7 linked regions of the Homo sapiens genome follow. The protein of the gene in region 1 interacts with the protein of each later gene in a biochemical or structural test. Each region holds a gene or a part of one and is shown in the gene's direction. Other genes may lie near its edges.

The links.
Region 2: the proteins of LGALS3 (region 1) and TRIM6 form a complex in vitro, tested with the Homo sapiens proteins (one study listed by BioGRID).
Region 3: the proteins of LGALS3 (region 1) and ANXA1 interact in a test that uses a peptide from one of them, tested with the Homo sapiens proteins (one large-scale study listed by BioGRID).
Region 4: the proteins of LGALS3 (region 1) and TRIM22 form a complex in vitro, tested with the Homo sapiens proteins (one study listed by BioGRID).
Region 5: the proteins of LGALS3 (region 1) and ENG form a complex in vitro, tested with the Homo sapiens proteins (one study listed by BioGRID and IntAct).
Region 6: the proteins of LGALS3 (region 1) and NCR3 interact in a biophysical measurement, tested with the Homo sapiens proteins (one study listed by IntAct).
Region 7: the proteins of LGALS3 (region 1) and MEFV form a complex in vitro, tested with the Homo sapiens proteins (one study listed by BioGRID).

What each region holds. Positions count from the first base shown.
Region 1 is NC_000014.9:55,142,588-55,145,923, forward strand, and holds the end of LGALS3 (galectin-3), read left to right. Parts: coding exon 1-162; intron 163-2,528; coding exon 2,529-2,684; 3' UTR 2,685-2,836; downstream 2,837-3,336. UniProt on the Homo sapiens protein: Galactose-specific lectin which binds IgE. May mediate with the alpha-3, beta-1 integrin the stimulation by CSPG4 of endothelial cells migration.
Region 2 is NC_000011.10:5,603,137-5,606,636, forward strand, and holds part of TRIM6 (tripartite motif-containing protein 6), read left to right. Parts: intron 1-109; coding exon 110-599; intron 600-1,397; coding exon 1,398-1,493; intron 1,494-2,200; coding exon 2,201-2,431; intron 2,432-3,500. Other genes in the region: TRIM6-TRIM34 (tripartite motif-containing 6 and tripartite motif-containing 34), read left to right, coding at 110-599, 1,398-1,493, 2,201-2,431.
Region 3 is NC_000009.12:73,158,365-73,161,864, forward strand, and holds part of ANXA1 (annexin A1), read left to right. Parts: intron 1-157; coding exon of another isoform or gene 158-171; coding exon 172-237; intron 238-330; coding exon 331-439; intron 440-964; coding exon 965-1,059; intron 1,060-1,898; coding exon 1,899-2,012; intron 2,013-2,438; coding exon 2,439-2,529; intron 2,530-3,500. UniProt on the Homo sapiens protein: Plays important roles in the innate immune response as effector of glucocorticoid-mediated responses and regulator of the inflammatory process. Has anti-inflammatory activity.
Region 4 is NC_000011.10:5,692,790-5,696,289, forward strand, and holds part of TRIM22 (E3 ubiquitin-protein ligase TRIM22), read left to right. Parts: intron 1-3,377; 5' UTR 3,378-3,443; coding exon 3,444-3,500. UniProt on the Homo sapiens protein: Interferon-induced E3 ubiquitin ligase that plays important roles in innate and adaptive immunity.
Region 5 is NC_000009.12:127,827,159-127,830,658, reverse strand, and holds part of ENG (endoglin isoform 1 precursor), read left to right. Parts: intron 1-831; coding exon 832-972; intron 973-3,500. UniProt on the Homo sapiens protein: Vascular endothelium glycoprotein that plays an important role in the regulation of angiogenesis. Required for normal structure and integrity of adult vasculature. Regulates the migration of vascular endothelial cells.
Region 6 is NC_000006.12:31,590,207-31,594,354, reverse strand, and holds the start of NCR3 (natural cytotoxicity triggering receptor 3 isoform a precursor), read left to right. Parts: upstream 1-1,348; 5' UTR 1,349-1,633; coding exon 1,634-1,676; intron 1,677-4,148. UniProt on the Homo sapiens protein: Cell membrane receptor of natural killer/NK cells that is activated by binding of extracellular ligands including BAG6 and NCR3LG1. Stimulates NK cells cytotoxicity toward neighboring cells producing these ligands.
Region 7 is NC_000016.10:3,253,834-3,257,914, reverse strand, and holds the start of MEFV (pyrin), read left to right. Parts: upstream 1-1,281; 5' UTR 1,282-1,327; coding exon 1,328-1,604; intron 1,605-3,124; coding exon 3,125-3,757; intron 3,758-4,081. UniProt on the Homo sapiens protein: Involved in the regulation of innate immunity and the inflammatory response in response to IFNG/IFN-gamma.

The sequences.
Region 1 (3,336 bases):
GCTTTAGATTTCCAAAGAGGGAATGATGTTGCCTTCCACTTTAACCCACGCTTCAATGAGAACAACAGGAGAGTCATTGTTTGCAATACAAAGCTGGATAATAACTGGGGAAGGGAAGAAAGACAGTCGGTTTTCCCATTTGAAAGTGGGAAACCATTCAAAGTAAGTTATTGCTACTATTATATATTGATAATGTATATTTCTCATGAGGAATCACTCTAAAACCCCAAAGCACTTGAAGTGAGAGTTTTTATCACCTCTCCTAAGGTGCCTAACCAGTTTATCTTCTCCCTGCCCAGGGGACCAGGCTCAGCAGGCTGAGAACATGGCCAGGAGTGGCACACTCCCCAGTTCCTTTCAGGCACCTCTCCATCATCACTGCTGCCACCCCTCTGAGTTTAAGCCTTTCTAGAAATGAAAAGAATATAATCTTTAACAAAAAAGGCAAAAAGTCTTTATGGTACAGTTATACTGCGACTTTGTTGCTTAAAACACAGTTGGCAGAGAGATGAAAACTAAAGGTTTTTTATTCTAAAATTAAAGTTTTATGAAAAGTTTATAAATTTTTAAATTAACAAAGTTTCCTATCTTTTACTCCTTCCCCCATCCTCACAAAGTTGCAATTCGATGAGTATCTTCCCAGTATTTTCTGACATACAGCACGCTTTTTATTTGTAAGCACTGCTTCAACAAATTAGATCCACAGCATTTAGGGTTGACTATAGAGTGGTGAATAAAACAGCTGGAGTGTAAACTCTTCAACAACAGGGACAAATAAGGACCACAGTCTACATTTGGTGGATATCTTTTCGTATCAGAATATTGTTACTTAATAGCACTTTTTTTTTTTTTCGAGACAGAGTCTCGCTCTGTCGCCAGGCTGGAGTACAGTGGCACGATCTTGGCTCACTACAACCTCCGCCTCCTGGGTTCAAGCGATGCTCCTGCCTCAGCCTCCCAAGTAGCTGGGATTATAGGCGTGCGCTACCATGCCCAGCTAACTTTTGTATTTTCTGTAGAGACGGGGTTTCACCATGTTGGCCAGGATGGTCTTGATCTCTTGACCTCGTGATCCGCCCACCTCAGCTTCCCAAAGTGCTGGGAGGATTACAGGCATGAGCCACCATGCCTGGCCAGTAGTATTTCATTTTTAGATATGTGATAATTTAACCAGTACCCTACTGATGAAAATTTACAGAATAGAAACACTCCAACCTGGAAAGATTTTACTAAAATACTGTAATAACTATCCTTACAAATCTTTGCTTCCTAGAAGCAAGTCTTCTAGAAATCTTTGCTTCCTAGAAGCAAGTCTTCTAGAAATCTTTGCTTCCTAGAAGCAAGTCTTCTAGAAATCTTTGCTTTAAATATACATGTTTACAATTTAGATATTGTCAAATTGCTGCTTCCAAAAAGATATAGGAATGAACATCCACTATTGGGAAGAGTAGATTTCTCCTACCCTTGCCAAAACTGATTATCATCAATCCTTACAACATTTGCCAGAGGAATCCTATTTTCGTGTTTTTCTTTTAGGTGTTTTAGACCATATCAGAACTTTTGGTTGTTTTGAGACAGGGTCTCACACTGTCACTCAGGCTGGAGTACAGTGGCATGGTCACAGCTCATTGCAGCCTGTCAACCTCCCAGGCTCAAACGATCCTCCCACTTGAGCCTCCTTAGTAGCGGAGACCACAGATGTATGCCACCCACGTGTGGCTAATTTTTGTATTTTTCTTGTAGAGATGGGATTTCACCATGTTGCCTGGGCTGGTCTCAAACTCCTGGGCTCAAGATCCGCCCGCCTTTGCCTCCCAAAGTGTTGGGATTACAGGCGTGAGCCACCACACCCAGGCTCTTTTAAGTTTTTATGCAGGCAAATCTTTAGCCTCCACCTTTATGGCTTCACTTATGTATCCTTCTAATAAATTTGCTGCTTTAAAAAAAAAACCTGAATAACTTGGAATTTTTTTGTTGTTGCTTTTTGTTTTTTTGAGACGGAGTCTCACTCTTTCGCCCAGGCTGGAGTGCAGTGGCACTATCTCGGCTAACTTCAAGCTCCGCCTCCTGGGTTCATGCCATTCTCCTGCCTCAGCCTCCCAAGTAGCTGGGACTACAAGGTGCCCGCCACCACAATCAGCTAATTTTTTGTATTTTCAGTAGAGATGGGGTTTCACTGTGTTAGCCAGGATGGTCTCGATCTCCTGACCTTGTGATCCACCCGCCTCAGCCTCCCAAAGTGCTGGGATTACAGGCGTGAGCCACCCCGCCCAGCATAACTTGGCATTTTTGCTGTAAAGTTACTTTCTCTGGATCTTAACTGGTCCCACAAATGATAAGGATGAAATGTTGGACATCCTGGGCTCAGGCCAGACTGGTTTGAAATTAATGGACATTTTTTCCCTTTATTTCAGTTGACAAAAAATTGTTTCTATAGTGCAGATGAAATATGTATATATTGTGGAATGCCTAAATCCAGCTGACATATGCATTACCTCATGTAACAGTTTATGTATATGCCATTTCAGATACAAGTACTGGTTGAACCTGACCACTTCAAGGTTGCAGTGAATGATGCTCACTTGTTGCAGTACAATCATCGGGTTAAAAAACTCAATGAAATCAGCAAACTGGGAATTTCTGGTGACATAGACCTCACCAGTGCTTCATATACCATGATATAATCTGAAAGGGGCAGATTAAAAAAAAAAAAAGAATCTAAACCTTACATGTGTAAAGGTTTCATGTTCACTGTGAGTGAAAATTTTTACATTCATCAATATCCCTCTTGTAAGTCATCTACTTAATAAATATTACAGTGAATTACCTGTCTCAATATGTCATTTAATTGGAGTGGTTTATTCTAGATAATGCACAATGGAAAAAATATGTAGCAATATTAATACTGCATTGGGGCCTCAAGGTTTCCTATACTTGTTAAAATATTTTTCTTAAGGAGAAAGTAAATATTACCACAAAATTATCTCTTCCAGAATTTCATAAAAATCAGCTGTTTCAAGAAAATTATTCTCTCATTTTCTTAAGGAAATATAACATGTTCAGGAAATCAGAATAGCATTAAGAAAAAGTTAACCTATAGATGACCTATGACCCATAGACAATTATTGTTAGGATTCTGGTATATTTCTTGACGGCTTTTTAATCCTATTTTCTCCTTCTATAGTTCACTGCTTTCAAATCAGTAATTTGATACCAATATAGGACCATCTCCCTGGTTTTTATGAAATCTCTTATGGAGAAAAAGGTATCTTATATAGTCGGCTTTCAAAATTTAATTGTTCCCATCGTCAACATTCTTGCCCATGCCTTTCTACC
Region 2 (3,500 bases), on another chromosome or scaffold:
CTTGTTACCCCAGGTGTCTGACCTCTTTATCCAGGACTGGGCAGTCAGTATTCCCTTATTCTCCCTCCTTTCTTACCCTGATCCTTTTTTTGTTTGTTCATCTACCTAGGATTCTACAGGCAGGAAACATCTTAGAAATCAGGGTTGGGCAGGCAGGAGCCAGGAGAGTAGCTACAATGACTTCACCAGTACTGGTGGACATACGAGAAGAGGTGACCTGCCCTATCTGCCTGGAGCTCCTAACAGAACCCCTGAGCATAGACTGTGGCCACAGCTTCTGCCAAGCCTGCATCACACCAAATGGCAGGGAATCAGTGATTGGTCAAGAAGGGGAAAGAAGCTGCCCTGTGTGCCAGACCAGCTACCAGCCAGGGAACCTGCGGCCTAATCGGCATCTGGCCAACATAGTGAGGCGGCTCAGAGAGGTAGTGTTGGGCCCTGGGAAGCAGCTGAAAGCAGTTCTTTGTGCAGACCATGGAGAAAAACTGCAGCTCTTCTGTCAGGAGGATGGGAAGGTCATTTGCTGGCTTTGTGAGCGGTCTCAGGAGCACCGTGGTCACCACACGTTCCTCGTGGAGGAGGTTGCCCAGGAGTACCAGGTGAGACCCCAGGATGGAATGGGAGACAGAGAAACAGGGTCTTTGGCAGGTTTTAACGTTTTATCATGCTCTGATCTAATCTCTTTGTAGTCTTTATTTACCTAGAGAATGAACCTGGAAACTGCCTCCCTGATTAAGAATAGATTCTTTATCATTTACTTGCTATTCCAGATTGAGTAGATAGAGCTGCTTGGGGTAAAAGGGGTACTTGGTTGATTGAGTGTGGAGATATGTTGGCAGGGTAGGTAAAGGAATTTATTTACTCATGTATTTATTTTGAGAAGGCGTCTCGCTCTGTCGCCCAGGTTGGAGTGCAGTGGTGCGATCCCGGCTCACTGCAACCTCCGCCTCCCGGGTTCAAGCAGTTCTCGTGCCTGGCCTCCCAAGTAGCTAGGACTGTAGGTGTGCACCACCATGCCCAGCTAATTGTGTGTGTGTGTGCGTGTGTGTGTGTGTTTAGTAGAGATGGGGTTTTGCCATGTTGCCCAGGCTGATCTCAAACTCCTGAGCTCAGGCAATCCACCCGCCTCAGCCTCCCAAAGTGCTGGGATTACAGGCGTGAGCCACAGGTGCTTTGTGGTCAGGCACCTTCCCAAGGGGGATGGAGAATCAGCCTATCCCTGTTGGTTTTCATCCCATGTATATATATAAAAGATTTGTTGGCCCTCTCAAGTTTTCATCCTAGGTTAGGACAGGCTTCTTTTGAGGTTAGCAGAATCTCTGTCCCATTCATTCTATGTCTGGGTACTGAGTCAACTGAAGGCTTGATCCTGCTTGACCTGATTTGTTTTCTTCAAGGAGAAGTTTCAGGAGTCTCTAAAGAAGCTGAAGAACGAGGAGCAGGAAGCTGAGAAGCTAACAGCTTTTATCAGAGAGAAGAAAACATCCTGGAAGGCAAGGGAGACTTTTTCTGAAGATGTCCTGGGGCAGGAATCATGGCAGGTCATAGGAGCTGAGGGCAAAGGAGTCCTTGTCCTGTCTGTCCTCTGATGCCATGACTAGAAGAGCTTCCCTTTGCCTGGTCCTCCACTATATTCCTTCCAAACAGGGGGAGGAGAGGAGGTAAATAGCAAATATATCAAAACTGAACCTAGGAGACAATCACATAGCAGAGGAACCATGGCTAGGGGTCGCCCCAATTCATAATTCTGGGTCTTGCTCTACAGTTTCAGTCTCTTTGGCTTTTCCCTTGCATTCAGAGTACAAATGCAAGGGAAAATGCAGGTAAGGCTTGTGAAGAAGCCCAGATCTGAGACAGGTTAGTCACAGGCCAGTGATTTCCACCTCAGTACTCGAAATTGGAAGAGGAGGCTGATGCAGAGGTGAGGGAGGCTTCCTGGAATCTAAACGTCACCCAGGAATCACAGTTGATGTCTAGATGGCCTAGATAAAGCAGCCCGGGGCCAATGGTCTGGGCAGAGCTGAAGGGAGAAAAGAAGGAAAGAACAGGCTACAAAGGCTTTCTCCTGCAGCATTTACCCTCCCTCTCCCTGGGAGGCTTGGCCCAGGAAAGCAGTCCTGAGCCCAACTTCCCCGCTTTTAATAGAGGAGACCCTCAGTGTGACCGACTAGCAGCCTCTTTTTCTTCCCTGTTCCTGAAGAATCAGATGGAGCCTGAGAGATGCAGGATCCAGACAGAGTTTAATCAGCTGCGAAATATCCTAGACAGAGTGGAGCAACGGGAGCTGAAAAAGCTGGAACAGGAAGAGAAGAAGGGGCTACGAATTATAGAAGAGGCTGAGAATGATCTGGTCCACCAGACCCAGTCGCTGCGAGAGCTCATCTCGGATCTGGAGCGTCGATGTCAGGGGTCAACAATGGAGCTGCTGCAGGTAAGGCTTGTGAAGGAGCCCAGATCTGAGAGTCAAGGAAAAGAGAAACTAACTTTCCTTCCTTTCTGGGACATCAGACTACCATCGTTGCAGGGACAAGAGAAAACATTCCTTTGGCGCTATAGTGCCTATCCCCTATTAAACTGTTTAGAGGTATGGAGTAAAGCGTAAGATAATTCAGAGTACAAATGCAAGGGAAAGTCCCATTTTTATTTATAAAGGGTTGTCTAAAAGTTTATTTGATGCTGTGGAGAAGTTCTGTTGTATCCAGTGATGTTGTTCTTTCTTTCTCAGTCTTGGCACTATTTACATTTCTGGCTGGATAATTCTTTGCTGCGTGGGGTTCTCCTGTACATTGTAGGATGCTTAGCAGCGTCTCTGGCCTCTGCTCACTAGATGTCAGCAGCACCACCCCAGATGTGACAACCCCAAATTTCTTCAGACATTGCCACGATAGCCCCAGGGTGAACACAGTGCTCTCCCAGTTGAGAACCACTGTTCATTAGGCACCTCTCGTCTCTGATGCTGTGTTGGGAATTTGCCAAGTGCTTCTTACCCAGCTTAGTCACAGGCACACTTACGCCAAGCTAAATTCTTAGAGATGATGTATTACCAGCCCTTCTTTGTTTTCACTCTCTTCTCTAGAGCAGAATCATTTAACATACTGTAGCAATTGATATTTGAACTGGTTTTGGGGGTCTGGGCTCTGGTCTGTATGTGTGTAGGTCGCAGATTACAAGGTATCAAGCCTAGAGAGATTTGATGGAGGGACTTGAACTGAGGTTGAAATTCTAGCAGCTATTTTCTGCATAGAATGAATAGTGTGGTTGTGAATTTGAGGCATGATGTAGCTTGTGATATTCTGTAACCTTCAGAGTGTAAGATATTCTTTATATTTTGTTTGTCTTCGTGCTTTCCTCTTGCTCCTTCTTTCTTGGTGGAATAATTGTTTATTTACATATTCTTGGGTCTTAGTATTAGAGCCATGGGTAGCTACTTTCTGCCTGTTACAGCTTTTTCTCATTCACTGCTTCCTGCTTTGCATCTTCATTTTATTCTTCTTGCCTTT
Region 3 (3,500 bases), on another chromosome or scaffold:
GTCTTACATTTTGTTATGCTCCTAAGTGTAATTGATCCTGGAAAGTAAGCGCAAGGCTACTCTCTAATGCTAACTCTTATGTATGTAAGAGGTGAGGAAGGAGAGGTTGTGTGTGGTGCATTTGTTTTGTAAAAGCATCTAACTGTTTTCTTTCCAGACACTTTTTCAAAAATGGCAATGGTATCAGAATTCCTCAAGCAGGCCTGGTTTATTGAAAATGAAGAGCAGGAATATGTTGTAAGTAGAGTGATAATAAAATTATGATTACAATATTGAAATAAAAACGAATATAAGTAAATGGCCATTAATTTATTTCTCTCTCATTCTTAGCAAACTGTGAAGTCATCCAAAGGTGGTCCCGGATCAGCGGTGAGCCCCTATCCTACCTTCAATCCATCCTCGGATGTCGCTGCCTTGCATAAGGCCATAATGGTTAAAGGTAACGTGTTTCCTCAAAACAGTTCCCTCCTGGACATTTCAGAATGGCTATTTGAATGACTGTCAAAAAACAGACATGTGCAATGGAAAGAATCTGTTTCATTTTGAAGATAAAAACATTTCTTTGCCAAACGAAGATGTAATTATTTACTTAACACTGAGGAAATTGTGTTCACATCAGTGGAATCTCTATTGTTACAGCAGATATTACTGGCTCATTTCTAGCAGAAATTCCATGCTGAAATTAAAAGCTCTGTTCACATATAGAGTTGCAACTAGTATCAAACACTGCAACACTGAGGGCCAGGAAAAGTTAATTGTCTCTTCCTTTCTCACTCGAATGAAATGTCATTCTCCCAAGTGCTTCCTTGATATGTAGTATAGCATCGATTTTTTAGGCTGATATATAATTTATATTTCTTAATTTGTTAAGAAGTTCTTTTGGAGCATCTCAGTAATGAATTATTTTATGTCAATTGATGATGAAGAAAATTGGTGTTAAAGGCTGTTGGCCCTTTATTTCCAGGTGTGGATGAAGCAACCATCATTGACATTCTAACTAAGCGAAACAATGCACAGCGTCAACAGATCAAAGCAGCATATCTCCAGGAAACAGGAAAGGTAAGTTAGAGTGGTAAATTTAGATATTTAATTTCAGCATAGTTATACTTAACCATGGATTCGGAAGCACAGTTACCTAGTTCTTTAAGGTTCTAACCACTGTTTTCTCATTACATCTATGATTGGGATTGCAGTGTTTATCCACTTTGTTGCAATTTAATCAATTTTATCAAATTTCCTATTTTTATACATTAGTCATCTTGGTGTATATTGTTTGCAGATGTGGTGCTCTGGGGACAAATTTTTAATTTGAACGTAAACATCGAGATTGCTGCTGTCAATAAAGAATATGGTCTGATTGAAATGTACTAATATTTAAACTGAACTGTTTAATGCCTAAATTTTATATATAATTCTACTTTAAAAATAAGCCTTATGTCTTTTATACCAAATATGAGTAGTTTTCTAAAGCAATGAAATTAGAAAACTATATAATTTCAGTATCTGATTATACTGCTTGTTATTTGAGAAGTACAAACCTCAAAGATTGGAAACATGAATATATTATTTTAAAAGTAATTTTACTTCTGTTTTCTGTTAGCACACAGTCCTCTGTGTTTTGATCTTTGTGATTTCTCCCCTGTGTATAAGATTACTAACCCTATGCTTTAAGAAGTTATTGATGAATTCAGTAAATTTTATTTTAATCCCTCTAGATCTGGAAGGGTAAGATAATGTTTCAAAATATTTGGTACACTTTGTATGTGAAGGGAAGAAGCTCTAAAAGATGGTTGGGTTTAGGGATGAGTTGTACGATGACCTAAAGTCAGGTAATATCACATTTTTTAACCTAGCATGTTACTTATTGGAAGTCCTGATTCTAATCTTTTTTTTTGTAGCCCCTGGATGAAACACTGAAGAAAGCCCTTACAGGTCACCTTGAGGAGGTTGTTTTAGCTCTGCTAAAAACTCCAGCGCAATTTGATGCTGATGAACTTCGTGCTGCCATGAAGGTAAATCGCCCAATTTGAGCAAACTCCTTTCCTCAAGAGGATGTATTGGGCAAGTCACTTATGCTTATGTTATTTTCAAAATCTAGTATAGTACCTGTCAATCAGTGGGAGTTTGAAGAATAAATAAATTAATACCTCAATGAAGGAATTAATATATAAATGAAAACAGAAATGTTGGCACTAACACCTTCCATGTCATGTCACTATATGAGTCATATATTTGCATTTTTATTTTTACCCAAAATATTGATGATAAACTTGTTTTGTTTTAGGGCAATGTAATAGAGCTTATTGTAATTATTAAATGTTGTGGGTGAAATTTACTAAATGACAGAGTCAAACAAATTTTGGAACACCAAAAACTCATTGATCCTCTTGCATGAAGATTTTTTTCTACATTTATCCTTTTCTTCTCTTCAAATTTAGGGCCTTGGAACTGATGAAGATACTCTAATTGAGATTTTGGCATCAAGAACTAACAAAGAAATCAGAGACATTAACAGGGTCTACAGAGAGGGTAAGTTGTAATGTCCAACAGTCCAAACGCCTTATTTGAAAAGGAAATCTAATATACTTTCTTAAAATTGACTGTCTATGGTAATTATGGCAGCTTTGGAATCTCCACATATCAAAATGTTTCTTTATTGTTTGGCACATGTCTATTAAATGCTGTTACCAGGCAACGCTTGAGTTGCTAGGTTGCTGACAAGGGAGATGGTGTCCCAATCCGCATCAAGCTTGCGTTTTAATAGAAAATGTTCCTCTAGGATAAATGGCCACATACGATTATAATGGAAACCTCAATTCAGAGCATTGAATTTTTAAAAATTTCTGAAAAACACTTTTCTATTATTCTGGAATGTATTTTATAAAAATGTCCCAAGGTCATTTTTTTTGAAAAGAATATATAATAACAAAAAAATCTCCTAACAAAATGTTTTTCATTTGTCCTTGAAAAAGTAAAGAATTAGGTGCTTATAATTCTCTGTTGGAAACCTTAACTTTATCGTTATGAACATAAGAGACTCACTTTATCTCTAGTTAAATTCACAGAATAAAAGACTAGTCTTAGCTTATTTTATCTCTCCAGTGAAGCATCTCATTTAAATGATGTGCTCAACACTGAAAAGAGGGTAATTGCAAGTCTCTTACCATTTTCCTACTCTCATTTCCCTGAGCTGCTGGCTTTTTGGCTTTCCCAATGCAATATATGGCATATAGAAGATCTTTCTGCTTGATTCTCATACCAAGCATGGAGAATACAATAGCTTTTGCATATCATTTTCAGAGGAATTTAATAAAAGAATAAAAATAAGGAAGCTTTTAAACCTCATTTTCTGCAATTCTTATTTAATTACCAATGTTTATGTTAGATCCATGTGTCAGTGGTAATAATGATGATTATTTTTGTTTGATAAAACATAGTTTATAAAAATAAGTGTTTATATATTTTTCATATGGCCAAGATATAGGCCAGTGATAGTTTAT
Region 4 (3,500 bases), on another chromosome or scaffold:
TCTCAAAAAAAAAAAAAAAAGATATTGATGGCTAAACCCCTTATAATTTTTCTCCTTATTGTGTAGCCACACTAATTTAATTTAATCTTTTTTTTTTTTTTTCTTTTGACGGAGTCTTGCTCTGTTGCCAGGCTGGAGTGCAGTGGTGTGATCTCAGCTCACTGCAACCTCCGCCTCCTGGGTTCAAGTGATTCTCCTGCCTCAGCCTCCAGAGTAGCGGGGACTACAAGCAACTGCTGTCACACCTGGCTAATGTTTGTATATATATATATTTTTTAGTAGATACGGGGTCTCACCATAGTGGCCAGGCTGGCCTCAAACTCCTGACCTCAGGTAATCTGCCCGCCTCGGCCCCCCAAACTGCTGGGATTACAGGCTTGAGCCACAGCGCCTGGCCATCTTTTTTTTTTTTTTTTTTTTGATTTAAATTGCACAGATAAAGAAAGCTTCTGTGCAGGTAATCAGAGTATTCTGAAACAAGGAAGCTACGGACCTAGTTAGCCTTCACCGTGTCATAGAAACTTCTACATTCGCACCACCTTCAAAGGGGAGCATGCATTTTGTTTATGTGTCTGTCTGTCTACCTGTCTTAGGTCGGAAGGGTTTCAATGGGGCTACATTTCTTCAATGTTAGAATAAAGAATGAATAGGCCGGGCGCGGTGGCTCACGCCAGTAATCCCAGCACTTTGGGAGGCCGAGGCGGGCAGATCATGAGGTCCGGAGATCGAGACCATCCTGGCTAACACAGTGAAACCCCGTCTCTACTAAAAAGACACCAAAAAATCACCCGGGTGTGGTGGCGGGCGCCTGTAGTCCCAGCTACTTGGAGGCTGAGGCAGGAGAATGGCGTGAACCCGAGAGGCGGAGCTGGCAAGGAGCCGAGATCGCACCACTGCACTCCAGCCTGGGTGACAGAGTGAGACTCCGTCTCAAAAAAAAAAAAAAAAAAAAAAGAATGAATAAATCAAGAAAAATAAGCACTTGTATTAGTTTTCTAGAGCTGTCATAGAAAAAGTACCAAAAGTGGTTGGCTTAAATAGCAGAAATATATTGCCTTACAATTCTGGAGGCTAGTTATCCAAGATAAAATGTGTTGACAGGGCTGGTTCCTTCTGAAGGCTATGAAGGAGGCCTCTGGTCCATGCCTCTCTTCTAGCTTCTAATAGTTTCCTGGAAACCTTTAGCATTCCTTGGCTTATAGGTGCATCACCCTGATCTCTGCTTTCTTCTTCACCCTGGCATATTCCTTGTGTATAAATGTCCCTTTTTGATAAGGACACAGTCATGTTGGATAAGGGTCTACCCTAATGAGCACATGGTAACTAAATAGTATTTAAATATACTAGTTTCAAATAAGAGCACATTCACACATTAGGATTTCAACATCATTTGGGGAGAAACAGGACAGACTTTATCTCTCTGCTACATATTCTCAATGTACTTGGCCTCCTTTATGGATTGAGACTTTTCTCCCATGACCAACAGATGTTTCTTTGAAATGTATATTGAGTCTATATCATGTGTGTGATCCTATAACTATTTTAGCCTCTTTTCCTCTTCCCAAAATATATACATCTTTAGGTTCCTATCACCATCCTTGCCATATGTCCAGGCCAAGGTGAAATTTCAACATTTAAAACCACAGCATGCCCCAGAACTACATAGCTGGTCTGGATCTCTCCATTTCTATACCCCCAATAGCACTGGGTATCAGTATAGCTCTTGTAGCCTTTACCTTTGTTGTCTGTATAAATCTGTGCTGCAGTGGAGAGAACTCTGAAGGAGGACCTTGGGGACAATACATTCACTCTTACTCTACCTATTAGATTAGAATGAGTGATCTTTGTAAGTCACTTGATTCTATTGACACACCTGAAGAAAGGGAGTATTCTTATTTCTCAAGGGTTTTGTATGAAGAATAAAGAAGTCAAAATGATTTCTAAATTGTAACTGCTTATAAAATTGTTCATGATAAAATTATTTTCCTATTATGGTGTTGGTGGTGGTGGTGTGTGGGTGTGTGTGTATGTCTTTGGGGATGGAGTGTGAGGTCATGGGAGGACTTGCTATGGGTAGATGTGTTAGGATGTAAACACTTCTTCACTGGAAACCATAATTGTGGTCCCAAAGGTCAGCTATTGGGAAACTGCTAATTGATGGAAAGAAAAGATGAAAATCTGATTAAAAGGTCTAATCATCTATGGAGGGATAAGGAAGTTGTGGCTTTATATATTCGTTAAATGTTTTATTCCTGTATGTGATTCACTTTTCTAGGTATAGAGGACATATCAGTGAACAAAAAAAGTCCCAGGTCTATGAATGGATTACTTTTCAGGAGGAAGAAGTAGACATTTAAAGAACAATCTTATATATTACATAGTAAAAATAAGAAGCTAAATGTGCAGTGAGTGACAGTACTGGTGGTTTTGCTATAAGTAAATTATAGTATGTCCTTCTAAGAAGAGGACTTCTAAGAGGAGACTGAATTAAATGTAAGAGTGAGTCTTGCTAACATCAGGGGGAGGATCATTTTATGCAGAGAGAGGAGCAAGTGCAAAAGCCTTGAGGAGCCATAGATTTGATAGTTTAATTGAGGAGGTATTTTTTACATGGGGAAAAAAGTCAGAGGAGATAAACCTTAACAGTATAAGTAAAATAATTCAGACACCAAAGACATATATTATGATTCTATTTTTATCAACTGATTAAAAACCCAAAGGATATTAGTAGTGGTTGCCTGGAGCTTGGGATCAGAATAGGAGTGATGGCATTAGGGTTTTTTTTTTTCAGGTGATAAAAATAATTTTAAATTGGGTTACAGTAATAGTTATATAGTTCCACAGATTTACTAGAAATTATTGCATGATACACTTAAAAATGATGTTTGATGCAGTGTTTGATGCTATGTAAATACAATTCAATAGCTTAAAAATATGCAAATATTCATGAATCATGCAAATATTGGGGATACAATCATGCCATTCAGAGAGAAAAGCCTGTGTGCAAGCCCAGGGGCAGGGGTGTGTTTAGTGCATTTAACATGGAAAATGTGTTTTGGGTTGGGGAACAAAAGGCAGGACAAATGATGGGTTACACGAAGCTCTTGGTAGAAGAGCCTCAGTTTGTCCTCTCCAGTAGAAGAGAAAATAACAATAATTGCCTTGATGGGGTGAAATTTGTCCTGAGACAAAAATTAAGAATAAAGTGTTTGAAATTACTACAAAGTCCATTTTATTCTGTCATTGGTTTATTCTTCATGCCTTTCTTTTCTCCTTTCTCTGTTAAATATTAATGTTTTGTCCTGTTCTAAATCTCTGTAAAAGCAGTATTCTTTCTATTCCTTCTTTTCTTACCCTGTCCCCTTCAACATTCTCAGCACTGCAGGAGTTTGTGACCAAGAACTTCAAGAGTCAAGACAGAAGGAAGCCAAGGGAGCAGTGCAATGGATTTCTCAGTAAAGGTAGACATAGAGAAGGAGGTGACCTGCCCCATCTGCCTG
Region 5 (3,500 bases), on another chromosome or scaffold:
TTTTTTTTTTTGAGACGGAGCGTCATTCTTGTTGCCCAGGCTGGAGTGCAATAGCGCAATCTCAGCTCACTGCAACCTCTACCTCCTGGGTTCAAGAGATTCTCCTGCCTCAGCCTCCCAAGTAGTTGGAATTACAGGCATCCACCACCACCCCACCTGGCTAATTTTTTGTATTTTTAGTAAAGACGGGGTTTCACCATGTTGGACAGACTAGTCTCGAACTCCTGACCTCAGGTGATCCACCTGCCTCAGCCTCCCAGAGTGCTGGGATTACAGGTGTGAACCACCATGCCCGGCCTTTTTTTTTTTTTTTTTTTTAGATGGAGTCTCACTCTGTTGCCCAGGCTAGAATGCAGTGGTGCCATCTCAGCTCAATGCCACCTCTGCCCCCAGGGTTCAAGCAATTCTTGTGTCTCAGCCTCCCCAGTGGCTGAGATTATAGGCACCCACCACCACGCCTGGCTAATTTTTGTATTTTTAGTACAGATGGGGTTTCACCATGTTGGTCAGGCTGGTCTCCAACTCCTGACCTCAGGTGATCCGCCCACCTCAGCCTCCCAAAGTATTGGGATTACAGACGTGAGCCACCGTGCCCAGCCTAATTTTTTTTCTCTCTTCAGATTTGCCGGGCTTACCTCCTTCATTTGTTTATTGTGAATTCCCTGAGGATGGCCAGAGGGACAGGCACTACCCTGGGCACTGGGAGGTGAGGGTGGACAGAGCAGGCAGGGAGAGTGGAGTGGAAGCATCCAAATCATCACTGCCTGTCTGGGTGGCACAACCTATACAAATCTGACTGGACTGTGTGTGTCTCTCCTCTGTGTCCCCCAGGGCCCGTCACAGCTGGAGCTGACTCTCCAGGCATCCAAGCAAAATGGCACCTGGCCCCGAGAGGTGCTTCTGGTCCTCAGTGTAAACAGCAGTGTCTTCCTGCATCTCCAGGCCCTGGGAATCCCACTGCACTTGGCCTACGTGAGTGTGTTCCCTCCAACCCCAGGCTGAGGCTCTGGCCATGGGAGGTCCCTACTGTCCATCTCTGTGGGTCAGGGTCTCCCACCCCAGCGGCCCAGCCCTGCTTCTCCCTTTCATCTTGACATTATTCACCAGGGTCCTGCCTGGTGAAGCCAATGGTCTCTACCAGAGAGAACCCAGAGGGCACCAGGACTACAGTAAAGAGTCTAGACCAAGAGGTGGGAGTCAGGTTGATGTGCAGCCCTGGCCAACTCTGATCCTCTGCATAGGCTCAGTTTGCCTCTCTGTCCAGTGGGACAACTGAACTCAATATTTTATATGATAATCTTTTCATTGTCTTTGAAAAAGTTACACGACATATATTTGAAAATATTTAAAGACAGAGGAAAAGGGCCAGGAGAAAACCTAACGTGTTAACAGTGGTTATGGCTGGGAAGTGGGATTAGGAGAGACATTTAGTTGGTTCTTCACACTTTGTTGAGTTTGCAAGAGTTGCTCTAAATGGATTTGGCCTATTTTGGAGAAAAAAGTATTTTTAAAAAACTCAAGTTTTCAGGTCAGCTGTGGATTTGGGAAAAACAATTAAAAACAAACAACCAAAAGCCTCAACTTTTAAAAGTGTTAGCTATATCCACCAGAGAGAGGAGGTCAGGGAGCTGGGACCCACTGCCAGAGGTCAGGGCTGGAGGAGGCAGGGTGGCTTGCCAGCACTGCCTCCTCCATGAGGAATGTCTGGGAGGTGGCCCCCAGATGTGAGCAGCTGTTGTTTACAACAGAGAAAGCAGAGGGTAGGAAGGGGAGAGCCCGGGGGAGAGCAAAGATAGCAAAGGGGAGAGAGGCATAGAAAGAAACATGCCCACTGCGGGAGGGAGGCAGGCTTGAGCGAAGTTGGGCGTGGGGGACAGGGGAGAAGCTTCCGGACTGGTGACAGGGACAGCACAGAGACAGTCAGACATGACCAAGCCAGCATGCCAAAGTCCTAGGAGGGAGGGGGCCAAATCCAACCACCAGGGCCAAGAGGATTTGACTCCTTGCAGCCCATCCCTCGGCCGCCCAGAAGGGGAATCGAGGTCCCAGAGGGGGCGTGGCCTTTACCATGGATCCTCCCCCTTCCCGATCTGAGTCCGTGCAGCCCAGGGTGAGGCAGGAACATGAAACGCGCCCGCCAGCCGGAAGGTCGCAGTAGCCGCCGGCTCTGGCCTCGGCCGCGCCGCCTTCCTCCTGGGGCCGCGCTGCTTCCCGAGCGGGCTCCCTGGGGCCGGTGGCCAGAGGGGACAAAGAGGCCAAGGCGCGGCCTCGGTGGCCGACCCAGTGCCAGGCGACCAACAGACGTCGTGCCCTGCTGTATCCCCATTTTACAGGGGCTGACTCAAGGATCAGATCCCTTTCCCAACCCAGCTGTAAAGCCAGTGTCCCAGCCCTTTCCCATTCCGCGGGCTGGGTTCCTCACCCAAGATGCCCATCACTTTGCCCCCTTGTTGAATCCCTACAGAGAAGGTATCTACTTCCTTCTAGATGGGCCATTCTAGGGTGTCTTGTCTACTGTTGCCATCTGGCAGTCCTCAATATCTAGCTTGGGCCAGGCGACCTGGCTTATGTCTGTAATCCCAACACTTTGGTAAGCCGAGGCAGGAGGGTCTCCTTTTTTTTTTTTTTTTTTTTTTTTTGAGATGGAGTTTCACTCTTGTTGCCCAGGCTGGAGTGCAATGGCCCCATCTCGCCTCACTGCAACCTTCGCCTTCTGGGTTCAAGTAATTCTCCTGCCTCAGCCTCCCGAGTAGCTGGGATTACAGGCACCTGCCACCACCCCCACCTCATTTTTTGTATTTTTAGTAGAGACAGTGTTTCATACCGTGTTGGCTAGGCTGGTCTCGAACTCCTGACCTCAGGGGATCCACCCGCCTCGGCCTCCCAAAGTGCTGGTTTACAGGCGTGAGCCACTGTGCCTGGCCAGGAGGGTCTCTTGAGGCCAGGAGTTGGAGACCAGCCTGGGCAACATAGTGAGACCCTCGTCTCTAAAAAATTATAATAAAAAATATTTTTAAATCCAACCCGAAGCCCTTTTGCCCTTCTGCTGCTGCTGTTTCATTCAGCTCAATGCCCTTGGCTTTGGAGACTGTACACTAAGAGCTCAGTCAGTGGCCCCAACAGCTTCCTCTGAATCCTTCAGCTTTCCAGAGTCACTCTTCCAGGAAGTCTTCCCTGTCTGCTTTCCTCCTCACCCCCAACCCCCATTTCTTCTGAGGCAATGGCAGGGTAGGCAGTGAGATGCTGAAGCCACCCAGACTCCCCATCCCTGTCCAACCAGGAGATCTGTCTGGCTCCTTTGTTTCTTATTAAATAAAATTCTGTCTTCTATTGTTTCAAATGACTTGATGCATGTCTAGTTTCTGAATGGTAATATCCCCTAGGGCAGGGACCACTGATATCTGTCTTTAATTCATTAATTCATTCATCCATCCCTTTCTTCTTTCTTCCCTTTCTCCCTGTCTTCCCATAGGCGGGGAGCACCCATCACATGCTGGGTG
Region 6 (4,148 bases), on another chromosome or scaffold:
CTTTTTTTTTTTTTTTGAGACGGAGTTTCGCTCTTGTTGCCCAGGCTGGAGTGCAATGGTGCGATATCAGCTCACTGCAACTTCCGCCTCCTGGGTTCAAGTGATTCTCCTGCCTCAGCCTCCCGAGTAGCTGGGATTACAGGTGCGCCCCACCACACCCGGCTAATTTTGTATTTTTAGTAGAGACGGGGTTTCTCTATGTTGATCAGACTGGTCTCGGACTCCTGACCTCAGGTGATCCTCCCACCTCAGCCTCCCAAAGTGCTGGGATTACAGGCATGAGCCACCACGCCCAGCTGAATGTTGTTTTCCTGCCTGCTAACATAACATCCATCCTGTAGTCCATGGTTTAAGGAGTAATTTAGACTTTCAAGTCTCATTATTTAAGAAATACATTTCGCCAGGCATGGTGACTCATGCACTTTGGGAGGCCTAAGTGGATGGATTGTTTGAGCCCAGGAGTTGGATACCGGCCTGGGCAACACAGGGAGACCCCATCTCTACAAAAAATACAAAAATTAGCCTGGTGTGGTGGTGTGCGCCTGCAGTCCCAGCTACTCAGGAGACTGAAGTGGGAGGATCAACTGAGCCCTGGAGGTTGAGGCTGCAGTGAGCCGTGATGGCGCCACTGAACTCCAGCCTGGGTGAGACAGAGCCAGACCCTGTCTCAAAAAACCAAAACAGGAATCCCAGCACTTTGGGAGGGCGAGGCTGGTGGATCACTTGAGATCAGGAGTTGGAGACCAGCCTGGCCAACATGGTAAAACCCTGTCTCTACAAAAAATACAAAATTTAGCTGGGCTTGGTGATGTGCGCCTGTAATCCCAGCTACTTGGGAGGCTGAGGCAAGAGAATTGCTTGAACCCAGGAGGCAGAGGTTGCAGTGAGCCGAGATTGTGCCACTGCATTCCAGCCTGGGCAACAGAGTGAGACTCCAGCTCAAAAAAAAAACAAAAAACAAAAAAACCCAACCAAACACACACACACACACACACACACACACACACACACACACACACACACACACAAGGTGATTGCTATGCAAATTAAATATAGCTTCACCAATCAGCTTGCTTCTCCTAATCCCTCATAGAAATCTTGGAGTAGCCCTGGGGTGCAGTGAGGCCAGATTCCAGGAAGGGAATGGGTGGGATGGGTCTGGGTACTGGTGAGCAGCAGGGAGGGTAAGTAGGTTAGCTTCTGGGCCAAGGAGGGCTCCTGGAGGCTTGTTCTGGGTAAAAGCTGGTCTCCTTGAACCTCGGAAGGTGGGGGAACCCACATCCTGGTCTCACCCGCCCAACCGCCCACTCACCCTTGGGTTAGCAGCCATCTAAGCCCCACCCTCCCCCTCACACGCTTAGCTAGCCTGCCACAAGCTGGCCCCTTGGCCTCCTAGAGACCCTGACATCTCCTCCAGCAGCATCTGTCCTCTCTCCTCAGGGAGGCAAGCATTTGATGCTCGAGGTCCCTGGCAGTTGTGGTCCTTGGCAAGTGATGTGTGAGTCCCGTGTGTCATAGGAAGCTCCCCATCCCCATCTGGTGACCAAAGGCCTGGCTACAAGTAGTGAGTCCTTCCTCCTCCACCCAGACCTCACTGCTCAGATCCCCTTCGCCAACTGGGACATCTTCCGACATGGCCTGGATGCTGTTGCTCATCTTGATCATGGTCCATCCAGGTGACAGGGCGTGCGCTCAGGACCCCAAGGAGTGTGGGTGGGAGGAGGGAGATCCAGGAGGCTGGACTAGATGCTATAGGGAACGGGCTTGGTGGGGGCTGAAACACACGGCTCTGAGGGAGGAGTGGGACTGCTCCAAAGGTGACACTCAGTGGACTCCCCCAATTCACAGTCTCTCTGTGTCACCCACTGTGAGGCTTTTTAGTTTGAGAGATCCAAGTAAATCTATGATAAATTTCTTGGTGAAACTTTTTTTTTTTTTTTTTTGAGACTGAGTCTCGCTCTGTCGCCTGGCTGGAGTGCCGTGGTGCGATTTTGGCTCACTGCAACCTCTGCCTCCCATGTTCAGGTGATTCTCCTGCCTCAGCCTCCTGAGTAGCTGGGACTACACGCACGCACGACCACACCTGGCTAATTTTTTTTTTTTTTGAGACGGAGTCTTGCTCTGTCACCTAGGCTGGAGTGCAGTGGCATGATCTTGGCTCACTGCAACCTCTGCCTCCTAGATTCAAGCAATTCTCCTGCCTCAGCCTCCTAGGTAGCTGGGATTACAAGCGCGCACCACCACACCCAACTAATTTTTGTATTTTTAGTAGAGACAGGGTTTTACCATGTTGGCCGGGCTGGTCTTGAACTCCTGACCTCAGGTGATCTGCCTGCCTCGGCCTCCTAAAGTGCGGGGATTACAGGCCTGAGCCACTGCGCCCAGCCATTTTTGTATTTTTAGTAGAGATGGGGTTTTGCTATGTTGGCCAGGTTGGTCTCAAACTCCTGATCTCAAGTGATCTGCCTGCCTCGGTCTCCCAAATTACTGGAATTATAGGCATGAGCCACTGCGCCCGCCTGGTGGTGAAACTTTTTTTTTGAGACAGTTTCATTCTGTTGTCCAGTCTAGAGTACAGTGGCGGTATCTCAGCTCACTGCAGCCTCCACCTCCTGGGTAAAAATGATTCTCCTGTCTCAGCCTCCCAAGTAGCTAGGATTACAGGTGCATGCCATTACTGCTGGCTAACTTGTGTATTTTTAGTAGAGACGAGGTTTCACCATGTTGGCCAGGCTGGTCTCAAACTCCTGACCTCAGGTGATCCACTCGCCTTGGCCTTCCAAAGTGTTGGGATTATAGGCGTGAGCCACTGCACCCGGCCGAAACTGTTTTTAATGAACTGAGAGACCTTAACTATCAGGCATATTATTAACTAAATGCAGGAGTTCTCAAAATGTGGATTTCTGGGAACCTAGAACAAATTCTTAGGCCCCACTCCAGACCTACTGAGTCAAAAACTCGGGGGGTAGGCCCAGGAATCTGTTCTAGCAGATGCTCCAGGTAATTTCCATACACACTCAAGTTTGAGAACCACTGAAATAGAATGACTTGTAAATTTCCCTAAGTAGATAATTTAATCAGGGATTTTAATATTTGGTTTAATTCATCAACATGGACGGGTTAAATAGGAATCTCAACCAATTAAGGCCACGTCTTCACCTGGAGATTTAATTAGTTACTTTCTTTAACGAAAACCAAGAGTGGCTGGGTGCACTTTGGGAGGCCGAGGCAGGTGGATCACTTGAGATCAGGAGTTTGAGACCAGCCTGGTCCGAGGTGGGTGGATCACTTGAGGTCAGGAGTTTGAGACCAGATGGTGAAACCCTGTCTCGACTGAAAATACAAAAATTAGCCAGTCGTGGTGGTGGGTGCCTGTAGTCCCAGCTACTTGGGAGGCTGAGGCACCAGGATCGCTTGAACCCAGGGGACGGAGTTTGCAGTGAGCCAAGATTGCACCACTGCATTCCAGCCTGGGCAACAGAGCAAGACCCCATCTCAAAAAAAGAAAAAAGAAAAAGAGGAAGGATGGCTTACTGTACAATGCCATTTGTACTAAAATAATACCTGGATAATATAATGAGTGATATTAGTTAACTAGGCAGCTGCATTCATTAATGAGCTTAATTTCACCATGATGGTTTACATTTCAGCTAGACAAGTTACTACTGAACTGGCTGGAGAATGATGGCAGAGGGTGAGAGTGAGAGTTGGTATAGGAAGAATTTGAAAAATGATTTTTATTTTTTATTTTTTGAGATGGAGTCTTGCTTTGTCGCCCAGGCTGGAGTGCAATGGCGCAATCTTGGCTCACTGCAACCTCTGCCTCCCGGGTTCAAGCGATTCTCCTGCCTCAGCCTCCCGAGTAGCTGGGATTACAGGTGCACACCACCATGCCCGGCTAATTTTTGTATTTTTTTAGTAGAGACGGGGTTTCACCATGTTGGCCAGGATGGTCTCGATCTCCTGACCTGGTGATCCGCCCACCTCGGCCTCCCAAAGTGCTGGGATTACAGGCGTGAGCCACTGCACCCAGCCGAAAAATGATTTAATAAGCAATGTTAAGAAATCAGATTGGTTAAGAGGGAAGGGTTTAATGAGGCACCCAAAGTATCTATTCCCATGCACCCTATGCCTGGAGAAAGCTGGGA
Region 7 (4,081 bases), on another chromosome or scaffold:
GGAGGCAGAAGTTGCAGTGAGCCAAGATCCCACTACTGCACTCCAGCCTGAGTGACTGAGCAAGACCCTATCTAAAAATAAAAAAATTAGGGTATGCAACGGTCAGAAGTAGGTAAGTGAGGAGTCAGTTCACCCTACATGTAATTTTTCATTTATTTATTTTTTTTGAGACAAAGTCCCGCTCTGTCGCCCAAGCTGGAGTACAATGGCGCAACCTCGGCTCACTGCAACATCTGCCTCCCATGTTCAAGTGATTCTCCTGCCTCAGCCTCCTGAGTAGCTGGGAGTACAGGTGCGTGCCACCATGCCTGGCTAATTTTTGTATTTTTAGTAGAGATGGGGTTTTACTGTGTTGGCCAGGCTGGTCTTGTACTCCCAACCTGAGGTGATCCACCCACCTCGGCCTCCCAAAGTGCTGGGATTACAGGCGTTAGCCACTGTGCCCTGCCCCCAACATGTAACTTCTGTTAGCTTCAAAGCCACCTCTGGGGCCCTGCACCACATATGAGCTGAAGGACACCCGTGCCTTTTCACCCGTGTAGCTCCAGCATCTTGGCACACTGTCTAGAATGTTCAATGAATGTGCACGGAAGAGCATTCTGGCTCCAGGGAGCGAGGACTGAGTCAGCTCTGGGAACAGATGAGTCAGGCTGGTGGTCCAGGCATTGCTTTTCAAGTCCTTCATGTGGCTGGAAGAACCAGTCAACTGGAACCGGATCAACAGGGGTGATGGCATGGCAAGAGTTATCTCCTGGCAGTGCCCTTCTGGCCTCACTTGCCTTCTTGGGCCAGGAAAGGCAAAGCTCACAGGACTGTATTCAGTGCCCACCCCTTCCCCCGTCCTGTGCCATTGGCTCTGGAAGGTCCCTGAAACCCCGAGTCTGGAGGAGAACAGTTGACCAGCAGGGCGGGCCCTCAGCATAGTCCTCTCTGTTCCCACTCACCCGCTCTGCCAGCCCCAGATCCTGGCAGGAAGGAAGATTGGAGGGGGTGTCTGGAATCCAATCCCAGACCTTCCCTTGCAGACTTGCCCATCTGTCTGTGGTCTAGTGTGGAGGCGAGGTCCAGGGTTTGGGAGGGGTGTGGGGGCACATGTCTGCCAAGGCATGGAGCCCTCCCAGCTGGAAAATCCTCTGAACCTGTAAGAAGAGAACACAGCCGGCATGGACACACCCTTACCCTTAGTCTCAGTTCCCACCAAGACACAGAGCATTTCCTGTGCCTTTTCCGCTATTTCACAACCTGCCTTTTCTTGCTCACCAAGGACAGAGGCTTCTTTTCCTACCAGAAGCCAGACAGCTGGCTCGAGCCTCTCCTGCTCAGCACCATGGCTAAGACCCCTAGTGACCATCTGCTGTCCACCCTGGAGGAGCTGGTGCCCTATGACTTCGAGAAGTTCAAGTTCAAGCTGCAGAACACCAGTGTGCAGAAGGAGCACTCCAGGATCCCCCGGAGCCAGATCCAGAGAGCCAGGCCGGTGAAGATGGCCACTCTGCTGGTCACCTACTATGGGGAAGAGTACGCCGTGCAGCTCACCCTGCAGGTCCTGCGGGCCATCAACCAGCGCCTGCTGGCCGAGGAGCTCCACAGGGCAGCCATTCAGGGTAAGCGGGCCCAGGCCTCCTCCTCATCCAGTGCTGAGTGCTGGCTGCTTTGTGGGAAAGGGGACCAGGAGCTCAGAGCAGCTCACTCTGACCTGGGGATTGGGAGTCTCAGGTCTACCAAAATCCAGATGACTTTAGTTCAGGAACGTCCCTTTCTTCACTCTGGCCTTTGGAACTGGGTTAGTAAACTTCCTTCAGGCTCCTAATGGGTTTTTTAAGAAGCAGGTCAGGGTCACGAAAGGCAGGAGCTGGAACACCTGTTCTTTGAGACTTCTTCACTACATTTATGATTAATACTCATGTCAGACAAACATCTCTAGGTTAGCAAAAAGGGATTGCTATGCAATCATATGAACGGGGTTGGTATAGAATCTTCTCAGTGCTGTTCACCATGTTGGCCAGGCTGGTCTCGAACTCCTGACCTCAAGTGATCCTCCCGCCTCAGCCTCCCAAAGTGCTGGGATTTCAGACATAGGCCACCGTGCCCGGCTTATTTTTATTTTTAAAGCGTATAATCTGGGTTTTGCTGACCTGTGTAAGATCTTATTTGAAACAGTTGTCCTGCTTAAAACGTTTGAAAAGTACTATTTGAGAAATATAGGCTAGGCATGGTGGCTCACACTTATAAATAATCTCAGCACTTTGGGAGGCTAAGGTGGGTGGATTGCTAGAGCTCAGGAGTTTGAGACCAGCTTGGGCAACATGGTGAAACCCTGTCTCTACCAAAAATACAAAAAAATGAGCCAGGCGTGGTAGCACACACCTGTATTTTCAGCTATTGAAAAAACAGAAAACAGGCTGAGGTGAGAGGATTGCTTGAGCCTGGGAGGCAGAGGTTGCAGTGAGCTGAGATCACATCAGGGCAACAGAGCAAGATCCTGTCTCAAAAAATAAAATAAGAGAGAGAGAAATACATAGCAACATCAAGCATGTTCTTACTGAATGGTAATTGACTGCCATTGTCTAGTCTAGGAAGTCCTGAACTTTTGTTTTTGAGATGGAGTCTTGCTCTGTCACTCAGGCTGGAGTGCAGTGGCCCGATCTCAGCTCACTGCAACCTCCACATCCCGGGCTCAAGCGATTCTCATGCCTCAGCCTCCCGAGTAGCTGGGACTACAGGTGCGCACCACCGCGTCTGGCTGAGTTTCTTATTTTTAGTAGGAACGGGGTTTTGCCATGTTGGCCAGGCTGGTCTCGAACTCCTGACCTCAAATGATCCTCCCACCTTGGCCTCTGGAGAAGCTGGGATTACAGGCATGCGCCACCACGCTCAGCTTATTTTTGTATTTTTAGTAGAGACGGGGTTTCACCCTGTTGGTCTTGAACTCCTGATCTCAGGTGATCCTCCCGCCTCGGCCTCCCAGAGTGCCGGGAATACAGGCATGAGCCACCGCGCCCGGCCCGTTGTTTTCCTCAATTTCTAAACTTTAATATCCAAGGGGATTCTCTCTCCTCTGCCCTGAATCTTGGGCCCTAAACGTGGGACAGCTTCATCATTTTGCATCTGGTTGTCCTTCCAGAATATTCCACACAAGAAAACGGCACAGATGATTCCGCAGCGTCCAGCTCCCTGGGGGAGAACAAGCCCAGGAGCCTGAAGACTCCAGACCACCCCGAGGGGAACGAGGGGAACGGCCCTCGGCCGTACGGGGGCGGAGCTGCCAGCCTGCGGTGCAGCCAGCCCGAGGCCGGGAGGGGGCTGTCGAGGAAGCCCCTGAGCAAACGCAGAGAGAAGGCCTCGGAGGGCCTGGACGCGCAGGGCAAGCCTCGGACCCGGAGCCCGGCCCTGCCGGGCGGGAGAAGCCCCGGCCCCTGCAGGGCGCTAGAGGGGGGCCAGGCCGAGGTCCGGCTGCGCAGAAACGCCAGCTCCGCGGGGAGGCTGCAGGGGCTGGCGGGGGGCGCCCCGGGGCAGAAGGAGTGCAGGCCCTTCGAAGTGTACCTGCCCTCGGGAAAGATGCGACCTAGAAGCCTTGAGGTCACCATTTCTACAGGGGAGAAGGCGCCCGCAAATCCAGAAATTCTCCTGACTCTAGAGGAAAAGACAGCTGCGAATCTGGACTCGGCAACAGAACCCCGGGCAAGGCCCACTCCGGATGGAGGGGCATCTGCGGACCTGAAGGAAGGCCCTGGAAATCCAGAACATTCGGTCACCGGTAAATTGTGTTCTTTCCTACTTTATATCGGCTGCAGAGAAAGAATGGCTGGCCGGGCACGATAGCTCATGCCTGTAATCCCAGCGCTTTGGGAGGCCAGGGCGGGAGGATTGCTGGAGGCCAAGACTTTGAGACCAGCCTGGTGAATGTAGTGAGACCCCCGCCATCTCTATAAACGAAATTAAAAAAATAAAAACCCAAAGGTTGGGCAGGGCGTGGTAGCTCTCGCCTGTAATCCCAGAGCTTTGAGAGGCCTGCACGGGAGGATCTCTTGACCCCAGGAGTTCCATACTAGCCTAGGCAACACAGTGAGACCCCATCTCT